3 linked regions of the Homo sapiens genome follow. The protein of the gene in region 2 purifies or fractionates together with the protein of the main gene of each other region. This does not show direct contact. Each region holds a gene or a part of one and is shown on either strand. Other genes may lie near its edges. The genes, in order: RAB4A, EREG and TMX4.

What was found.
Region 1: the proteins of EREG (region 2) and RAB4A purify together in Homo sapiens (affinity purification with mass spectrometry; 3 studies listed by BioGRID and IntAct, with this or other methods). This does not show direct contact.
Region 3: the proteins of EREG (region 2) and TMX4 purify together in Homo sapiens (affinity purification with mass spectrometry; 3 studies listed by BioGRID and IntAct, with this or other methods). This does not show direct contact.

What each region holds. Positions count from the first base shown.
Region 1 is NC_000001.11:229,287,807-229,295,759, reverse strand, and holds part of RAB4A (ras-related protein Rab-4A), read right to left. Parts: intron 7,032-7,953; coding exon 6,917-7,031; intron 1-6,916. UniProt on the Homo sapiens protein: The small GTPases Rab are key regulators of intracellular membrane trafficking, from the formation of transport vesicles to their fusion with membranes.
Region 2 is NC_000004.12:74,381,883-74,389,835, reverse strand, and holds the end of EREG (proepiregulin preproprotein), read right to left. Parts: intron 7,192-7,953; coding exon 7,042-7,191; intron 5,110-7,041; coding exon 5,028-5,109; 3' UTR 1,087-5,027; downstream 1-1,086. UniProt on the Homo sapiens protein: Ligand of the EGF receptor/EGFR and ERBB4. Stimulates EGFR and ERBB4 tyrosine phosphorylation.
Region 3 is NC_000020.11:7,976,610-7,982,478, forward strand, and holds the end of TMX4 (thioredoxin-related transmembrane protein 4 precursor), read right to left. Parts: coding exon 5,642-5,869; 3' UTR 737-5,641; downstream 1-736.

The sequences.
Region 1 (7,953 bases), on a different chromosome or scaffold from region 2:
TGTAAACCACAACACAGGGACAGACACTGGTTTAAAAGAGAAATGATTCAAAGATATTTGAACATACATGTGAGGGGTTATTCTGCCTGAAATCACATCACTGTGGCAAGTAGGAGATTCCTTCACAGCGGATGCAGCTCTCTGATGGATGTCTCCTTTGAGAACTCCTAGCAGGGTGAGCTGTCTGCGGAAGCCAGCACCACCCCCTAGATGGACACTAAGGGGCTCAGCAATCCACTCACTTCTCTGCGAGCTCCTCATCTACCCCACTCCCTGGCACAATTTTCTCCATCTCTTCCAGTTCTCGCCACCTCTCGGCGCGGTGGAATCCATAGTCACCACAGGAATCCATAGTCACCACGGCCCTACACCCACCTGCATCCCTGCCCTATTACTACGGGAAAACTGAGTGTCCCAGTATGTCATATCCACTCTCACATTCAAGAAGGCGTCTTTTGGTCATACATGTTTTCCCCTACATTGTCAATCTCACCCTCTTTGTGAGATTTTTCCCATTAGTGGCCGGACACCTATAATCCCAGCACTTTAGGAGGCCCAGGAGGGAGGACTGCTTGAGGCCAGGAGTTTGAGACCAGCCTGGGTAAGAGAGAGAGACCCTGTCTCTACAAAAAATTAGCCAGGTATGGCAGTACACACCTGTAATCCCAGCTACTCAGGAGGCTGAGACAGAAGGACTGTTTGATCCCAGGAATTTGAGGTGACGGTGAGCGATCATGCCACTGCACTCCAGCCCAGGCAACAGAAAGAAAAAAAAAAAAAAGCCAGGAGTTCAGGATTTTTCCTATTAGCAAAATAAAAATAAATTGGCTCTGGTACCGCCCATCTTAAAACACAAAACAGAAATATGCTGCACCATCTTTTCAGTTACTGTCCCACTGTCTGCTCTTCTCCACATCCAACTGTCTTTTTTGAGACAGAGTTTCGCTCGTTACCCAGGCTAGAGTGCAATGGCGCGATCTCAGCTCTCTGCAACCTCTGCCTCCCAGGTTCAAGCAATTCTCCTGCCTCAGCCTCCTGAGTAGCTGCACCCGCCACCACGCCTGGCTAATTTTTGTATTTTTAGTACAGACGGGGTTTCCCCATGTTAGCCAGGCTGGTCTCGAACTCTTGACCTCGGATGATCCACCCGCCTCGGCCTCCCAAAGTGCTGGGATTACAGGCGTGAGCCACCACGCGTGGCCCCACATCCAACTTTCTGAAAGAGCTGTCTTTACCTGCAGCTTCCTCTTCTTCACCGCCAACCTAGTGTCCATCTCTGCTACTCCCCAAAAGCCTGTCAAGGTCCCCACCCTCTCTGCAACCGAAGCTGGAGTGGGCATTTCTGTCCTCACTCACTCGCGCAGCCTCTGCGCCCTGCACTCTGCTAGTCTTCCTCCCGCTCACCAGCCACTTCTCTGGCTCTGGTCATTCTTCTGAATCTGCCCTGCTGGGATTGCGATTCCCCAGAGCTGGGTCCTGGGCTCTCTTAACATTCGACTCAAATTTTGTCTCCAGCTCAGATCCAAGTGCTGCCTCCATATCTCCATGAGACTGCCTGATAAACATGTCAAACTTAACATCTGCACAGCAGGACTCTTTTTGGTCCCACCCTCCAGGCCCGTCCTGGCCTAGGAAGAGGCATCACCACGCACCCTGTTTCTAAAGCAAATCAGCTCCACATTCATCCTCAATTCCTGTGCACCTCCACATTCACTCCGCCAGCCTAGTGCAGTCTCCTACACTACACAAATCCTGTGTCTGCCCACGCTGCTGTCCCTGCTGCCATGTGTGGCCCACAGTCCATTCTTCAGAGCAGCCCAACTCATCAAGGCCCAGGACAGGACATCTCCGTCACTGTACCTGTCCCTTTGGCCCCATTCTCTTCCCTGCTCCCAGCCCCTGCCACTCCCGTCTGGGCTCGTCACACCGCTGGCTTTCCTTGTCCCTTGGGTCTCATTAACTCTATCTCCTCAGCAACGTTCCCCAAGCATCCCCATCCAGTGGACCCCCTCTATCTCAGCGTGCTGTCTCCTGGGTGGCACCATCCCACTTGGTGGGATGCTCTTTCTGTCTCTGTCTCTGTGTTGGCTGCCTGCCTCCCCTCCATGGGGCAGGGCTCTGCTGTCTCACTCACCAGAGGATCCCAGTGCCTAGCACAGGGCCTGGACCACTGCTAGCTAGACATTCCCAGAACTTAACTGTGGCCTAATTAAATTAAAAAATATATATTTGGTCTTCGTCCCAGGTTCCTGGCACAGAGGCCCAAACCCCTGTGATTTCCTTAGTGATAAAGGTGTCTTTTGTAAGCCAAGGAGATAACTGTGGGAAGAGTAGCAGGCTAGAGAGCCTTGGGATCGGGGCTGTGGCCGTGGGAGCCCTCACCGAGTGAGGAGAGTGCTGGAACTTATAGCCTCACCTCAGCCCTCTGGGGAGGAAAGAGGAGCTGGAGATTGAGTCAATCATCAATGGATAATGTTTTAATCAATCGTGCCTTTGTAATAAAACCTCCACAAAAAAACCAAAAGGATGGGGGTCAGAGAGCTCCTGGGCTGGTGGTGGCATGGAGGTGCTGGGAGGTGGCCCATCCCCATACCTCGTCTCCTAAGCATCTCCTCCACCAGGCTGTGCCTGAATTGACACCTATCTAACAAACCAGTAAATGCCAGGAAAAATGTTTTTCCTGAGTTGTGTGAATCATTCTAACAAATTCTCCAACCTGATGGGGATGTGAGGGATGGAGGGTGTGGGAACTGCCAGATCTGTATTTGGCCAAGAAGTGCAGGAAGCCTGGGCACTCCAGTTGTGACTGGTGTCTGAAGCGGGGGTGGCAGTCTAGGTCTCCTTAGCCTGGAGGGTCCCCTTTAACTCTGGGTAGTGTCAAAAGTGAATTGAAGTGTTGGACACCCAGCTGGTGTCAGAGAATCCGACTGGCTGGTGTGAAGAAAAACCCCATAGACTTGATGTCAGAAAAAAAAAGACACCAGAGGAATGAACTATCCTTGGAGAACAAAGAAACCCGTGCAGCTTGCAACAAACAAACAAACAAAATTACTAATTATTACTTTGCTGCTTGGCAAAGAAGAGCTACTTTTAAATGTACTTTTTAGCTCTTAGTCAGGAAGCTTCAAGGTCTTCATGTAGCTTGAAGCTTTTCCTCTCTGCCTTGAGACTGTTAGCAAGAGGCACACGCTTTAAGGACTGGTGGCAGGTAGAGGTGCAGAGTGGACTGTTTGCTCTTCACCCCACAGCCTCCTAAGGCAGGGGGAAAGGCCTCGCTTGTTCACATCTATTAAGAGGCAGCGCCTTTCTATTCTTGCTCAGCAGGCACCTAGCTTCTAGAGGAAGAGGGAACTACGAGTTCTCTTCAAGATAAGCTGTATCACATCTACTTCTTAAAATTTTACTTTCAAATTTATTTTACAACACTGTCTTGACAAATAGTTTCTTATACAAATTACTCCAGTATACAAATATACACATTTAAGAATACTACTTTGAGGTGTTAAATTTTCTTTTTTTTTTCCTTTTATTTATTTATTATTATTATACTTTAAGTTTTAGGGTACCTGTGCACAATGTGCAGGTTACATATGTATGTATACATGTGCCATGCTGGTGTGCTGCAACCGCTAACTCGTCATCTAGCATTAGGTATATCTCCCATTGCTATCCCTCCCCCCTCCCCCCACCCCACAACAGTCCCCAGAGTGTGATGTTCCCCTTCCTGTGTCCATGTGTTCTCATTATTCAATTCCCACCTATGAGTGAGAATATGCAGTGTTTGGTTTTTTGTTCTTGCGATAGTTTACTGAGAATGATGATTTCCAATTTCATCCATGTCCCTACAAAGGACACGAACTCATCATTTTTTATGGCTGCATAGTATTCCATGGTGTATATGTGCCACATTTTCTTACAAAAGTAATTTAACCAATATAATACATGTGGATAGTTTTAAAGTGAAATGTCACGAAAAGTCTCTAAATTAAACACAGCCATCTCCTGCCTCACTCCTCTCTGGGAGCCCTACTCTCCACAAGCGAGGTGAGTTCTCTCTTTCTGGTAACTGGGTTTCCTTTAATTAAGTCATTAAAAGAGCACATACTGCGCCCCTGTGTGCTAGACACTATTCTGGGCACAGGGGAAACAAACAGAAAACTCAAAAACCCTTACACTCATGGATCTTACAGTTTCTTTCTTCTCATTTCTACAAAAGGTTTAGGAAACTGAATTTCAGAGCTGTTTCTTCCCCGCTCTGACAGAGTCGTGAGCTCTTACAGAGCCCCTCACTTGTTCCCCTGGTCCTCCTGGAAGGGCAGTGCCATCACATACTGACTGCTGTCTTAGTCTTCCCTCACTGTCCCTCTAGACCTGTGCCATTCTGAGCTGGATCTTCCTGCTGGCTTCATTTTCCTCTTTCTGGGATCATGCCCTTGTCCTGGTGAAGTATATCCTCCTAAACTTTCTAAGAAAGTACATTTCTAAGAAGTCTCTGAGAAAGATAATCTTGGCTTCCTCCTCTTTCTTGCACATCTGTTGGTATTCAGCCTTTACTTGCACACTTACAGTTTGGCTAAGTTTAGAATTTTAGGTTGAAGAATTATTTCACCCTGAGTTTTGAAGGCAATGCTTCCATTTCTTTTAGCTTCCAATGTTGCTGTGGAAGGGTGCAAAGCAATTCCATTTTTCACACTTTATATGTGGCTGCTTTTTCCCTCTTGGAACCTTTCTGGTCTTCCTTACTTCATCTGTGGTGTTCTGAAATTTCACATGGCACGCTCTGGTCTGGACTTTTTCCTTACTATGTTTGATTTTAGGTGGGCCAATTAATCTGGAATCTCATTCCTTCAGTGAAACATTTTCTTCTATTATTCTCTCTGCTCTTCTCTCTTCTGGAACTCCTAATAGTCATTGCATCTTCTGGATTAATTCTGGAGGATTCTTTATGTCATCTCTCCCATTTTTCACCATGAGTTTATTTAACATATTATTCTGATTGCTCTTTTTAAGTATGACTTTGTTTCTATTACATACTCCAATGCAATCTCTGCTCTTCTTCCTAAGGATACTGTGGTTTTAGTGTGTTTTTCTTACTCCCTCAAAGTTCCAGCTTCTTTACTTTGAGCTCTCTCTTTTGCTATAGAAACTTTCTTCAAAATTCTGCCTGATCATTAAGAGCAAGGAATGAAAAAGTCTAAAAGAAGCTCTTTATGTGTGGGTGGAGCAGGTGGGCTTGGAGGGTTTCACTTTCAGATGACTGGATAGAGACTGGGCTGTTTGACTGGGAAAGCAAAATGTCACTACCTTCAAGCCTTTCCTTTCTGACTATTCATTTTTCTGCAGAGAAGGCTCCTTTCTCCTATGTGGGACATACACACCTGGCTGCCAGCGACCAGGGAAGAGGTAGGGGAGGTGGGTTGGGGGCCAGAGGCTTTCATTTTCACTTAATTTCCCTCTTTTCAGGCCTGACCCCATGCCCTCAGGTGGGCCTTATGACCTTGAGTCTAGACTCCATTTCAACGTAAAAGACTGAACCTCTTATTTCGTGTGTAAACATGAACCTCTGTAACCTCTACCTCCTGTAGAACCTGATGCTTCCAAATCCTGACCTTTTCTGGGACTCCAGAGGAAGAAATGGCTTCCCCCATTACAGTACTTAAGGTGGAGCTCCTTCTGCTGTCAGAGCACCATCTACTTCCTATCTTTAAGATTTTTTTGGAAATCTCTCAATCATAATTGTGCACTCACTCAATCTTGGCCTTTTTGAGTTACTTCAATTTCAGTTACTTAACAGACATTTCAGTGGGGTTCTGAGAGGGAAGACATAAATGTCTAATTGAATCCACCATGTTTAATCAATGCTTCCAGAAAAATGATGGTGATTAAAGGTGGTTATGGTATTTTTGAAGCAATTATTGAACTTCAATTACTTAATTAATTTTTGAGATGGAGTTTTGCTCTTGTTGCCCAGGCTGGAGTACAATGGCGTGATCTCAGCTCACTGCAACCTCCACCTCCCGGGTTCAAGCGATTTTCCTGCCTCAGCCTCCAGAGTAGCTGGGATTACAGGCACCTGCCACCACGCCCGGCTAATTTTTTTATTTTTAGTAGAGAAGGGGTTACACCATGTTGGCCAGGCTGGTCTTGAACTCCTGACCTCAGGTGAGGAGGTCTGCCTCGGCCTCCCAAAGTGCTGGGATTACAGGCATGCGCCATTGTGCCCAGCCAAACTTCAATTATTTAATATACGACATGTACTCAACTTCAAGTGAAATGTTTACAAATGGGGTGGATTTTATTTCACTGAATTATAAAACTATGAATATCAGTTCTGACTTTGTGCATCTGTGCAAAAACCACAACTAAAATATTAATCTATTTTCTTGCTTTAGTAGTTACAGAATACTAAACATGTAACCTCATTTGCAGTGACTGAAGTCATTCTGAGCCTCAGTTATGACCCTATTGTAATTAAAGTGTGGAGAGAATATTTTGTGGAGTGTGTATCAAACATCAGAACATGCTCTAGTTAATGTAAAACAAAACAAACCCTCACAAGGTTTTAAAAAGTTCTTCTTTAAAAAAGGAACACAGAAAAACAAGCTTGTGCTTTGATTTGAATCTAGAAACATACTGTACAATACACAGTGCCACATCCTCCTGAGAATGGGTCAGCCTCCGAATTATAATGCAGTTGCGCGGAGATCCTCCTGTATTCTTTAGTAATCCATGCTGCAGAGAGCTAACCTAAATTTTAGCTGTCTTGTCAATCAAAGTTTCCAAAAATGAAGTTTCTGAGATTAGGACAAGGAAGGGGTGTGTTGGGGAGGGAGTGAGACCTTATATATTGAGAGAATATCATCAATTATTTTAAATCAAATTTTCAAATATTTTTATTAAGTTAGAGAAAAGCTACCTGAATCGTTCTTGTCCTGCTGTATCCCATATTTGTAACTTTACATATTTACCACCAACATTTATTATCTTTGAACCAAATTCCACTCCTATTGTATGATTTGAGTCATCTTTGACTAAAAAAGAAAAACAAGAACAGCATATTTAATTTTAGAACATTAACAGGCTTATAGATTTAAACAAGTGACACTAAAACCAAGAGTTACATCAATGGGGAATGGACATTACTCTAGCCATTCATTTCTCCAACATTCCATTGAGAAGATGCATTTAGTTTTAAAGATAATACACACAGCCCCTATTCTCAAAGAGACATAAAGATTTTTCTCAAAACCCCCAAACAAATGATACATTTAAAAACCTATGCCTGAAAGTAGCCCTGCCATATCCGAACCACATCCAACTGTGCACTGTTAAGATGCTCACAGATGGTGACTGCTGACATACCAGCGTACCATTCTGAAGGGCATAACGCCCAGTGACAGGTGTGGAACTCAGTAAGTAATGAGGTGGAGACAGTTTCAACTACTGTATTTGAATGGTTAAATATTTTAAAGAAATAACAGTGAGTGGAAGGAAAAGCAGAGGAAAAGGGAAAAGGAGGAAAAAAATTGAACCAAAGAAAAAACACCCTCCAAAAAACCCCAAAACAAAGCACCCTCCAAAAAACCCCAAAATAAAACACCCTCCAACAAACCCCAAAACAATACACCCTCCAATAAACCCCAAAACAAAACCCTATGCAAGCTACAGGTGTTTGAGATTTCATTAATCGTAGTGTTCTATGGAAATGATTTGGGATGAATTTGTTGGAGAAATTAGTACTATTTGAATGGGCAGGAGACAGGCAAAATAAGTATTTTGCTAAACCCAGCGGGAATACACTGCCTATGAAAGAACATTTCTGTGATGATAAACAGATAAGCTGAAATTGAATATCGCAGCTATACAGTCCATTGGCTAGTTTATATTTTGTAACTGCAGAACAAAATTTAATTGTTTCAGAGATCAGGGATGCCACTGGCAACTGGATTTATT
Region 2 (7,953 bases):
TATTTTACAAGAATTTCTATTTCTCCCAAGAAAACTCTAAACTAGATCTGAGACTAACTCCTTATAATCTTCCTCTGCCTCTGACATGGCCCGAACATCAGTGGAATTAGGAGTGAGAAGACCTGAATTCTCATGACACCTCCACCTATTGCCAGTGGTGTGACCCAGGACAATTGCTTAACCTCCCTGTCAAAGGGTTGAAGCCATAGGTCCCTTCCCCAGCTGCAAGCTAATGAAGGATCCAAGGAGCTAAGGAATGGAGCAAGTACTCTGTAGGCTGCTGAATAAGTATACCAAGGAAGCCATCCATCACTGTGATGAAGGGTGGGAAGAATCAAGCTTGTCTGCTCTAAAGGCTCAGGGGAGCCAAGCCTCTTTGCAGAGGCTGAGAGAATCATAAGGCACCATTCTGGCTGATGAATCTTTTCAAATGCTACTTCCCAATAGGATATCTATTCTTTTTAGAAATACTCTTTTAAAATACTCTTTAAAATATTATTTTAAAAAATACTAACCCCAGGCTGGGCATGGTGGCTCATGCCTGTAATCCCAGCACTTTGGGAGGCGGAGGCGGGAAGATCACAAGGTCATGAGTTTGAGACCAGTCTGGCCAACATGGTGAAACCCTGTCTCTACTAAAAATACAAAAATTAGCCGGGCATGGTGGCACGTGACTGTAGTCCTAGCTACCCGGGAGGCTGAGGCAGGAGAATCGCTTGAACCCAGGAGGCGGAGGTTGTGGTGAGCCGAGATCGTGCCGCTGCATTCCTGCCTGGGCAATAGAGTGAGACTCCATCTCAAAATCAATCAATCAATCAATCAATCAATCAATCCTAACTCCTAGGATTTTTAAATACCAACACCTAGAATTTTATAACTAATGTGGCTCCTTCTATTACAAGAAATTCTTCACTATGCTGGCTATAAAACGTGATACATTTATAGAATGTTTTCCCAAATTAACACCATTGAGTCATTATGTCTACACACATTATATCCCTGTCACTGCTTTTAAACCCTTTAATGTATTGTGGGGAAAAAATTGCAAAAGAAAAAAAAAGAATGAGGCTGCATTGTCAGTGAAGATTTTGAATGCAAGATGTTCAATGCATTTTTATTTATTTCAATTTTTTTCAATTCCCAAGAAAAATAAATAAAAATTAATAATATCTTGTAAATTATCTATTTTCTCCTTCAATATCTTAAGGTACACAATTATCAAAGCTGATATTGAACACAAACAAATTGATACAATTCAGTAATCCGATAACATTCATAGTCAAATAAGTTACTTCAAATTGCATGCAATACAACTTTATGTTCCATAGCATCTTTAATAAAAACCGTTTACCAAAATGGCTCTTCAAACTTAAAAAGTGCAATTACAGAGTGCAAAATAAAAAGAAAATACATTATATTACATTTAACATCATCAAATTTGAATAACAGATATTTAAATGAAATTACTCTTTTTAAAAACATTAAAATATACACCAGAAATACTGTTTGTACAAGTCATTACTCCCCCTTCTCCCATATGAACAAGAATTTTTTAACGGTCAGAATATATTGGGCATCAAATTAAAAACTTTTTTTTCAAAAGTCTACAGAATGGATATTGGAGCAAAAATTACAAAGTGGGTCAGATACAGGTTTTTAAAAACTGCATTACTGAATTTAACAAAAGTCAGACACTAGAATCATATATTTGCTGCATAAAAGTTGATTTGATACCTGGTGGTGATTGAATTTAGTCTCAAAGACTCATAAATAAAAATCTGACTTAAGACGTAGTCATACCAGTATACCAATTCTCCCATCACTTTGACTTTCGGCAGAGAGATTAGAGCAAAAAATATTCAGGAGAACAGTGGAGTTACATTGTATTATGTATGTTTAATATAATATCAATTTTAAGGTTAAGGTTAAGGAAATCTTAATTTTAAGGTTAAACCTTGAGTACTAGTTATAGAACTTAATATTCCTGGTTAAAGAGTAAGTTAACTGGGTTATTATGTGGCCTTGGTTGAAGACCATAAATTATGCATTTATGCATTTGTGGTTGCTTTGGTTCTCAATACATTGAATATGCATAGCCCCTTCTAGAAATATATATAGTGAGAAATCTGTAAAATGGGGGAGTTAGACTAAGTGTGAACTAAAATCTTCCCACTGTGTACAGGACACATCAGCTGAGAGCAAATCAGTTTTTATGTTTACTCAGCACCATCCTCACTAAAACTATTATTTTTGTCTTATTTTCACCCATAAAAAGTAATGTGGGTCATACTTTATTATTTAATATGCATTTACAAAGATCTAACTATTTTAGGGATTAGCTTTTTTAAGCATTCTTAAAGATGAAAAATACAAAAATGACTTGTTTTTATGAATTGACATGCTTAAGATAAACTGACAAACCAAGATTGAGATGCTTACAATAAATCTTTTGTAAATGAAATAAATGGATTGCAGCTGATTTATTGAAAAGTCAATAGATTTTTTTGAAACAGCCAAGATCACTGAAAATATTCAGACTCTCCTCACATCTAGTAAGCGTTAATAAATACAGTTGTACCTTGGTATCCACAGGGGACTGATTCCCAGATCGCCCCCCTGCACATACTAAAATCGGGCACAGATGTTCAAGTCACTTATATAAAAGGGCATAGTGCTTGCATATAACCTATTCACATCCTCCTGTATACTTAAATCATCTTTACATTACTTGTAATACCTAATGTAAATGCTACGTGCGGTGGCTCACACCTGTAATCCCAGCAGTTTGGGAGGCTGTGGAGGGTGGATCTCAAGGTTAGGAGATTGAGACCATCCTGGCCAACATGGTGAAACCCCGCCTCTACTAAAAATACAAAAATTAGCTGGGCATGGTGGCATGCGCCTGTAGTCCCAGCTGCTCAGGAGGCTGAGGCAGGAGGATCTCTTGAACCCGGGAGGTGAGGTTGCAGTGAGCCGAGATCGTGCCACTGCACTCCAACCTGGGCAACAGAGCGAGACTCCATCTCAAAAAGAAAAAAAAAAAAGTAAATAGTTGTTATAATGTATTTTTTGTTGTTGTTGTATTATTTTTTAAGCATTTTCCGTCCTTGGTTGGTTGAATCCACAGATGTGGAACTAACCACAGAGGGCCAACTGTAAGTAGAGTATTTAAAATGTGTTCTTACATATTTTGACTTCAGCTGTATTAAATAGGAAACAGAAATAACTGTTTAGATCTAATTGATTTTTCTTTTCTCTTGTTTTTAAGTTTTATATAAATGGTTAGCAGAGCACCAAATGACTGCAATTCTATGATCCATTAAGGTCATGTATACATACATGTTTGTATATGAATATATATACAATATGTATATGACCATATATATTTACTTGTTTTTGTCTGTTTATTTTCCTAATAGTAAGGGCCAGGGCCAGGACTTTAGATGACAGTCGTGTGATTGCACCAGGGTATATAATGCATGGATACACATGGAGACAAGTCCTGGCACCTGGTGCTCCAGAGGTCAGCCATGGCTTATTATGCCTTCGTTTACCCTAGCACATGCCAGGATAAACGTAGAGGAAGAACAGATCCTCCCTGACCTGGTATGTGATCCAGGGAGACTCTACTCAAAGGTTTAGCATTCGATGAAGGAGCCTCCCATAAAATCCAAAAGTGGTGGCAGCAGTGGCTCCTTATGCAATAGCCCAAAAATACTCCTATTAACTCTCTGAGACCTATGGGCTCAGAGTGCAGAAGAAATCTTTGTCTCTTCCAAAAAATAAACAAATGTCAGGAAAATGAGCCCTAGTTTTCATCTCAGCCTCCACAGGAAGGTGTGTTTAAGTTTCTACATTTTAAAAGCTTTCAATTGAGATTTTTCATTTGGAAAAATACACCATATTAATTTTTAAGTTTTTTCCCATTTCCTGTGTCAAGATACAACTTTAAATACATAACTTTACATTCTAGAAGAAGCCATTTACTGAGCTGTATTAAAGTTAAAACTTCCTTGAATAAAAGATGAAATAACTGTATTTCCATCTTAAGACAACATGTAGAATTATTGTCTTCATATATTTTAAAATAATAATTAGTCCATCAAATTTTGGGCTGTGATTTAATGTTAGAATTCAGCAAAGCCCCTATAAAAAGAAATAGTCTAAAAATATTCTTAAAAAGCACAAATTTAGGCTTCAAGTGTGGACTTTTTTCTAATTGTCTGTTGAGCAATAATTACCTCACATAAATGTTGTAATATACAAAAAAGGAACATTGTGAAGCTATGAAATGCCCACTACTTAAATAAAAGATTACAGAAAATTGTTTTTCAATTCATTTTACATAGGCAGAATCTGGTAGATGAGTGACTAGTACCTGTAGGAGTCGTGAGTTGGCATAGGGAACTGTCCACTGCCCCTCATATAACAGAATTATAGCTGAGACCTGAGTGAAGAGACCATAGACTCCCCAGGGTTAGCTTGTTTCAAATGTGTAGTGTTTAACACAGGACCTATATTTGCTTCTCCCAAATTCTAATTGCATTATTGTTTTAATATATGATACCATGGTGCCAACTACATATCAAACCATGGTACAGTCAAACCAATTATCACTGATTTGAGGAACATAAAAAACATACTTACTAAATCGATTTGACTATATATATAGGCTTACAGAAATCTGTCATTTGCTAACAATTCTTGAGCTATGACCTGGGAATTGCTTACTTCTAAGCACTGTGCACCAGGCATATAAACTTTGAAGCTTTCAATGAAGCATTTAGCTCAGGAAATTACTTGTATAAAAATATCAATTTTCTTTTGATATTAAATATTTTCTGCACATTATACATTAGCAAATAGTCTGTCAAAAATAAAACAAAAATAAAAACATTTTTCAAGTACATTAAAATACAGTGTTATTGACCTAACACTTGACCCAACATAAATATTATTAATAAAATGGGAATATTAATATTAACCAGGCACACTGTTATCCCTGCCCATAAGTTTGATGGCGCCATTCAGACTTGCGGCAACTCTGGATCCCCTGAGGTAACTCTCTCATATTCCTTCTTTGGTTCTTTACTTTTTCGATTTCTGTACCTGGAAATATTCACAAACGAAACTGTTAGCACTGCAGTTAATAGCAAAGGAACAAGTGTGTTATATATGGACTCCAAAGGCACATTAGCATAGTGTTTCCAAAATGACAAAGTTGAACAGATTTAGGTTGGACAATGTTAAAAAAAAAAAAAAAAAGAGGGATGAAGAGGTGATGTGCTGTAGTCAAACAATTTTGGAATGAAATGATAAAATACACTTAAAGAGTTTCTCAAAGTCTTTAACGTGATCATGAATATTGTGAAATTCCAAGAGGCGTGTGGCCACATTTAAGTCTGAATTTTAGGTTTTCTTTTTCTGTCTCTCTTTCTTTTTCCTTCCTCCCTTCTAAGGAATGAATATTTACAAATCATGCTACATTAATACACTCTTTCCATCACATTGATATAATGCTATCACTAATCAAAATAAAAATAATATTTATCAGGCACTAATTTGGTGACCTACAATTTTCTAAGTGCTATACATGCATTATTTATTTTACTCTCACATTTGCTGTTACCATCCTCATCTTACAGATGAAGAAAGTGAAATACAAATGGGTTGTATATAATGTGCCCAAGGTCCAAGGTCTCATAGCTAGGATTCATAGATTTATCATAATTTAGAATCTTCTTTCATTTATTCATTAAGCTATTTTCCTAATATTTTTGAGTTTATTTTGTCCCTATTTTGGAAATAAGACATGTAGCTTTGAGGAAACCACATCATGTCTATGTTTACTGTAAGAATATGAATTAGAAAGAATTTGTTCTTCACTCTGGCATTTGTCAACTATATGAGCTGGGATATTTGAATGAACCTCTCTAAACCTCAGTGCCCCATCTATAAAGGAAAGGATTGTGGTCAAAGATTTGCAGGCATATTTCAGTTTTAATAATATTTAGTTCTGTCATGGCAACTTATTAGGAAGGCATTATTATTTGATGGATACTTAGAATCAAATGTGGACAAAATAAATTTAATATTATGAAAGTAGCACACTTTCAGACCTTCAAAATTGGAAGTGCACTACTTTCACAGAAAAATAAAAACGTAAATTCACCTTGAGTAATTTGTAACTGTTTCAAAATATGTTTCATGGAGACATTTTAAAGGGAACTGTTATTAATTAATTCACACTGTTCCCATCCTTTGCTCCTAACCCTTAAAAAAATGCCAAACTATACTTTCAATGTTCACTTTCTATTTTTCTGTTTTCAGCTTGTGACAATAATGCACATGAGGATGAGGTACGACTGTTTTGGGGGACTGACACAAACTATTTTTTAACAACCATTTTTTATAATTGTCTAGAAATAGTTCCACCAGTCTGCCTTAAACTGTAAGATAACCCAAGCTTCTAAGGTTATTAATTTACAAGGTTGTTTTTTATAAAATAAAAAATGTGACTTGAGGAATTAAATTCAGGTGGTTAACTATAACAGTAGCACCTATCCTATGATTTACTTTCACATGAAATATCATATTACATACTAAAAGCAACCACCCTATAACTAATGTAAGATAATAATTTCTGTCCATATTTGATAAAGAAGGGAATTGATACTCTCAATTTGACTTATGTAAGGTCACATAGGTAATAAGTATCAGAGCTGATAATAAAGTTCAATCCAGATGTTCTGCAGCAAAAACATATTTTTAAAAAATAATTTCAAGTTATTTCAGATTCGGGGGTACACATGCAGGTTTCTTAACAGGATATATTGTATGATGCTGAGATTAGGGGTACAGCTGATCCCATCACTCAGGTGTTGGGCATAATACTTAATAGTTTCTCAACTCTTGTAAATATCATTTGTACAGGTTTGATCTTATCTCTCTAATACTTTATCCATATTTTTACCCAGTTTATAGGTCTGCATTATGTAAAAGTAATTTGTAAAAGCAGAGTATAAAACCACACTGACTTACCATCTGCAGAAATAATATGTGGAACCGACGACTGTGATAAGAAACAAAATAATAAGAATCACGGTCAAAGCCACATATTCTTTGCTTAAAGGTTGGTGGACGGTTAAAAAGAAGTGTTCACATCGGACACCAGTATAACCCACTTCACACCTGAAGGAAAATACGGAAGAAAGAAAGATCAGTTACTTAAAAAGGAAATCATGGTTATGAATTAGTTTTATAAGGACTAACATCACACTGTAATGCAAGAAATCAACAAAATTTGCTAAAGATTGTAAAGAGGATTTCAAAGATTGAGTTAGACCAGTAATGATAAAAGGGCTCCACGTAGCTCTTGGACTAAATTGTAGTATTAAAATGACGGTTGTGTTCAGCTGTCATGGTGGCTGACAGTCCACAGTGGTGTTTTGTAAGTTGTACAGGTTTGAGATTCCTTTTGTCTAAATCAGTGGAATCAATTCTTTTTTTGTTTGTTTGTCTGTTTGGTTTTTTTGAGATGGAGTCTCGTTCTGTCGCCCAGGCTGGATAGCAGTGGTGTGATCTCTCGGCTCACTGCAACCTCCGCCTCCCAGGTTCAAGCAATTCTCCTATCTCAGCCTCCTGAGTAGACTACAGTCTTGCGCCACCACGCCTCGCTAATTTTTGTATTTTTAGTAGAGGCGGGGTTTCACCATGTTGGCCAGGCTGGTCAGGAACTCCTGACCTCAAGTGGTCTGCCCGCCTCAGCCTCCCAAAGTGCTGGGGTTACAGGGTTGAGCCACTGCGCCTGGCCTGGAATCAATTCTTTTTTTTTTTTTTTTTTTTTTTTTTGAGACGGAGTCTCGCTGTGTTGCCCAGGCTGGAGTACAGTGGCATGATCTCCGCTCACTGCAAGCTCCACCCCCCGGGTTCATGCCATTCTCCTGCCTCAGC
Region 3 (5,869 bases), on a different chromosome or scaffold from region 2:
AAGCCCCCGAGATTTGCGGGTCTGTTAGCACAGGCTGGACTGTCGTAATACAGTTATCAATCTCAAGAAGCTCACATGTTCCAAGAAAGAATTTCTATTACTGTGAAATATGTTCCAAAGAGCATTCAAGACTAGAGCAAAGCAGGGGGTTAAATTTGTAATTCAGTGTTGTTGGCTTGAAAGCTGCATTTTGCTATAGGCAAGGATGAATAACCAAAGTCATCTAGGCAGACAGCACGACAGACATTTTTCTCTGTATAGGCAAATAAGCATTCTGAGCCAGTATCTCTGAGGGAGGGCCTTGGTGGTATGCAGGTTTAGTAACTGTCTTCTCACTACACACATCCCCCACCATCTTCCAAAAGACAAAAATCCAATCTCCATTGTTTCAGTCTCTGAGGGTGTTTCAAGGACCCACCTTACCACCTTGATGCTTTTCCACTATAGTGGTGGGGAGAGTTAGGTGTAGAAGGGAGTTTTCTGAAAGCCCCAAAGACAAGACCAATCCACAGTGTCTTGGGGGATTAGTAGCATCCCTTGCCATCTGGCTACCCCAAGACCTCAGGACAGAGGGAGACCCCAGAGGTTTCTGATGGCAACACACTGGCTGGAAGAGCCTTGGATCTTTGGACCCTGCCTTGGTTTTGTGCACTTTCCAGAGCAACTAAAGGGCACATGGTCTGAGTTTCACCGAGTCAGGAAGGGAGAAAGAGAGAGAATGAATGAACAGACTAGATGGAGGATGGACACGAAGGAAAATTTTTTTTAACAAATTAATATTTTTTGCTGCCTAGGCAAATGGCTTTTGTGAAAACACTTGTATGAAAAGCAATACACCATTTGTTTTTACTTACCAATCACTATCATTAGGTTTTGATGCAAATGGGAATTTACAATAAAATGAAACAAATAGGATCAGGGATTATATACAATACTGTGATCAAGTGATTTGTGATTCAGGCAATGTACTACTTGAAACACATATCTGGATTTCTCATTCCAATTGCTGCAGATGCTATTTGAGGAAGCAAAGAATACAGAAAGAAAAATAATTAGGTTCATTAGGCTAAGACTAATACCAGTAATATAAACAACAAATTTATAACATATTGCATTGCAAATAAGCAATGTTTTTAGTATAAAAATTGCATTTCCACAAAGAAGCTAATAACAAATACGATTAAACCACTTCAGAAACACGTCAAAGTTGTACGAGTCACACATATACAGTGTCACAGTCTACATAAAGCTTTACTGAGAATAAGCCATCTGAAGGGCATGTCCCGGGCTGAAGCGATCAAAGGGCTTTTCAACTGAAGTTCTTACTTCCAGAAAGCTGTTCAAAAAGCTGCCCCATCAGGTTCAGCAGGCTTGATGACTCCAAATTTGGCTTTTTAAGACAAGCTAAAATCTCCTCCAGAGAATCAAAATGTAGGACTGAGGTAAAGAGATATTAAACAAGAAGGAACTTTTCTGTTGGCATAAGAGATTTGAATGAATTCTTTCGAAAATGTTGGTACATTTGACAGGATGGGTCAACCACATATTCATAATACTGACAGAAATAACACTGTAACACCAAGATGAGGGACACAGATAACCTATTGATACGAGCAACAGAACCAGCCTCCCTCTTCTTTCTCTCACTTCATACTAAAGATTTTATGCTGAAATCTCAGGTTTGCCGTAACTTTTCCACCTTTTTTTAAAATTTATTTTTCTCTGGACTTCTAATGTTTCCATCCTATGAAACAACATACCAGCTCCACTACTGATGCATTTGGTAATAAAAAGTCACATGGTAAGTATTTGCCTTAAAAATGACTTTTATCGTCTACCCCAAAGGTGTTTTTACAGGATGCAGGTTCTGTAGACTGACATATTCCCAAATCATATTAGAACATCACAGCTGTCAACAAGGAATTTTGGCCATAAAAAGTCAAATTTTGTTTTTTTTCCACTATCAAAAGCCAACTCAGCTGAAGCTTATCTATTTTCTACTACAGTAGTTATTTTGAATGTATAGAGCTAAAGAGGCCTGTGGCTAACAGACAGGGATTCCATGCACAAGAGCTTTTAAGTATGTGCCCATGCAGTGCAAGGCCCTGTGAACCCAACAGGCCCTGTCCCTCATCCCATCCAATGACTATACTTCAAAGGGAAAGAAAGATGTGGATTGCCTGTATGTTGCTTCAATATGAGATCTCTGAGCAAGCTGGGTTGGTTTAGCAGATCTAGCAAGAGACAAATAATAAGAGAAACCAACATAAAGGTAATCAGAAGTTTCAAACTTTCCTTCTAATTGATGAAAAGATACCCTGCTCCAACTCCCCAAACATAAAGCACTGCACATTCCCATTCCAAAACCAGTTACCTGCATTGCATTCACCTAATTTTAATTTACATAAAATACCATTCTGTGACTAAATAACTGATACTGCAATAGAGGGAAGCATGATTTTAATTTTTTTTTTTTTTAGATTTTAAAAATCAAAATCATGTTTCCATGCACTTGAGTTCCGGATCAAATATATTATCTACAGAAAAAATCCACAAACTCTTATCGAAATGTTCATATAAAGTTTAAATTATTTCAGGTTGGCTTTTCTCCTTTAGTTTTATATTCATTAAGTATTGAAAACAAACCTAAAATCTTCAAGTGGAAAGATATTAAATTAAATTTTGTTGGAAAAAAACCCATCTTTGCCATGATGTTAAAAAAGGGAAAATCAGGAAAAATGGTTCCCACAGATATTTAAAGTTTTAATGGGTCCTCTTCTCCAAGATGTTTTTCTCCTCACCCTTCAATTTTTTTTAAAAGTATTTCTGAGAAAGAAAGTACATTTTCTGCCAGGTACGGTGGCTCACACCTGTAATCCCAGCACGTTGGGAGGCTGAGGCGGGCGGATCACCTGAGGTCAGGAGTTCAAGACCAGTCTGACCAACATGGCGAAACCCCGTCTCTACTAAAAATACAAAATTAGCCAGGCATGGTGGCACATGCCTGTAATCCCAGCTACCTGGGAGGCTGAGGCAGGAGAATCCCTTGAACTAGGGAGGCGGAGGTTGTAGTAAGCCAAGATTGTGCCATTGCAGCCTGGGCGACAACAAGAGTGAAACTCCATCTCAAAAAAAAAAAAAAAAGAAAATACATTTTTCTTATTATATAATTAGATATAGGTCAAATATCCCTTATCCAAAATGTGTGGGACCAGAAGTGTTTCAAATGTTTTTGGATTTGGGGATTTTTGTATATATATAATGAGGTATCTTGGGAGTAGACCCAAGTCTAAACACAAAATTCATTTGTTTTATATACACCTTATACAACATAGCTTGAAGGTAATTTTATCCAATATTTTTAATAATCTTGGGCATGGAACAAAGTTTTGATTGCACTGTAACTGCCACCTGTCAAATGAGGTCAGGTGTAAAATTTTCCACTTCTGACGGAATGCTGGAACTCAAAGTTTAAGATTTTGGAGCATTTGGGGTTTTGGATTGTTGGAACGGAATGTTCAACCTGTACTATTTGGGGTCCGGTTGGAAATTGGCTTTACATTTTTAAAAGCCAGTGTAGACTGTATTTCTGCCTTACCTTCTCTCTAGTCAAATACTCCACTAAAAAAATGAATATTTCAGTTTGAGAGGGAGGAATTATATAGAAAAGCCAAACTATGAAACCATTCTTATTCCATAATACCTCTGAACCTGAGTTTACTGTTCTTTGAGAACTCTGTTTCAGCTGATTATAAGAGAAAGAAATCCAGTGACACGAGGGCAGGCAGGCCCCGCTCTGCTCTGATCGAGAAAAGCTTCCTGATGTCAGGGAGATGGAACTGCCACCATCAGAACCATGGCACTTTGGGTGAAGGTGTGTCAGCGACCAAGGGGGCAGGAAATGGGCAGTGACTAAGGGGGCAGGAAACAGGCAGGCACATGGCAAGGTTCTCCCAGCCCATCAGCCCAGTGATGGCCTCGATTTTGAAGCTGCACTACTGTCTGAAAAGCACAATTACTGGTGACTCTTAACAAACTTCAGCATACTGGGGAAGGAGACTGTCAAGTAACTGAATTGGAAAGATGAAAAAGAACCATCTCTAAAAGTTGATGCTGTCAGAAGAATAACCTCCTTTGTGCAAGTCTTGCAACATCTTCATTCAACCACAGGAGGGCAGAGAGTTTCAGAACCTCCCCCACCAGTGAGCTCCGTGCTCACAATTAATACAAGGAAAGGGTTATCTAAACAGCCAGATAGAAATATACTGCACGTTCCTTTTTAAAGACGACAGAAACTTTTAGAATTTCATAAACCTGTACTCATTATTCTGTCTGGATCTAAGGAGCATAGAATCAACTTTAGGCATCTTTCGTATGCTTGGAATCGAATTTCATGAATTTATTCTAACACATAAATCAGGTAAGAGAGAAGTAGATGGATAGATTTTTTTTTTTTAAGGAAATTAGCCTCCCTGGGTACTTACAGTAGATTGAGTATTGAGAGATTTACAAAGATATAATTCTTTGGAAGATTACAGAAGATGGAAACAAAATCAAATCTTTCACTTTCAGGTACTGGAGTTCATTAATTCTTTCACCAAAAGCACATCACTGAAGGAAAATCAGAAGTGGTTTTTTAGTTATTATTAAAGTAGTTCAAGACCCAGGGAACCCCTTGAGATGAAAACAAAACAGTATTCAACTTTTCTTCACAAGACTACCTTGTACTGGCAAGACTTAGAGGACTTCTGGCTTGAAAAATATTGCTTAGAAAACTTAAAAAAAAATCAACAACAACTATATTTTGGACAAAACAATTTTTTTTTAATCTGTCTTGTAAAATCCTTACTTCCTTTTGAGTCTCTGATGGCCACAACATTTCATTTGAGATGTTTGGCAGTCACAGCTTCAGGGGTTATGGTTACTGATTATCTAAACCCCTTAGGTCAGAATGAACAAACACAGTTCATGTAAACCTGGCTGTTATTGGAGTCCTCTGACCAAGAGATAATAGTGAAGAGTGTGGAGAGCCTGAATGCCCATGGTGGAAATGCTGGAAAAATTAAAGGTAAGAAATAAAACATAGCACAGGAGATTCAGAGGGCTGGGATGACTTCTGAGCTGCTCTCTATACCCAAGGCCCTTTCAATTTCTAGCTGTGAAAGATTTTTCATGCACTGTGGTGCCTGATGTTTCCTGCAATTTGACAAAAATAAATACTTTACACAAGAAAAGGATGCAAGGCTTCTACGTTACACTTTGGGGATGCTCAGGAGCCAAGGCTCCTGCTTGGCTTTCATTTCACAGGGCCTGCAGCCTTGTCTCTGGAAGGTGCTGATTAGGACTGGGAATGGCCTCCTCTGGTCGAGACTCTCTGACCCCTAAGTAAATGAACTTGTTCCCATCCCAGTCTCCAAACAGATCCCAACACTACGTTTGTTTTTCTATATCCTGATTGTCACACCTGGAAGACTCTCCTTAGTATACATGAGGCTTACTGCCATGAGACCAAATGACTAGAGAGCATCTTTTAAGAGAAGCTTGCTCATTCAGGAAAAATTAAGGATTTGGTACAAACTGCAGGCCAAAGGGAAGCTGACATATTGTTTTGGTGTGTATTCTTGAAAACGCATCATTAAATCTACAGTCCCTTGTCAGCATGCTGACTTTTACGCTGCCTCAAGGAGTCTTCCACCACCTCTGTGTCAGCTGGGCAGGGTTGCTCAGAGATGCCTTCTTCAGCCTCCTCAGGCTCTACTTCCTCCCGGGTCACACCGTCCTCTCCTGGGGGCCCCTGATCATTGGCCTCACTTCTCTCCTCATCCACACCAGCAGCCAAGTTGTCCTCCTCCTCTTCTTCCTCTGCTTC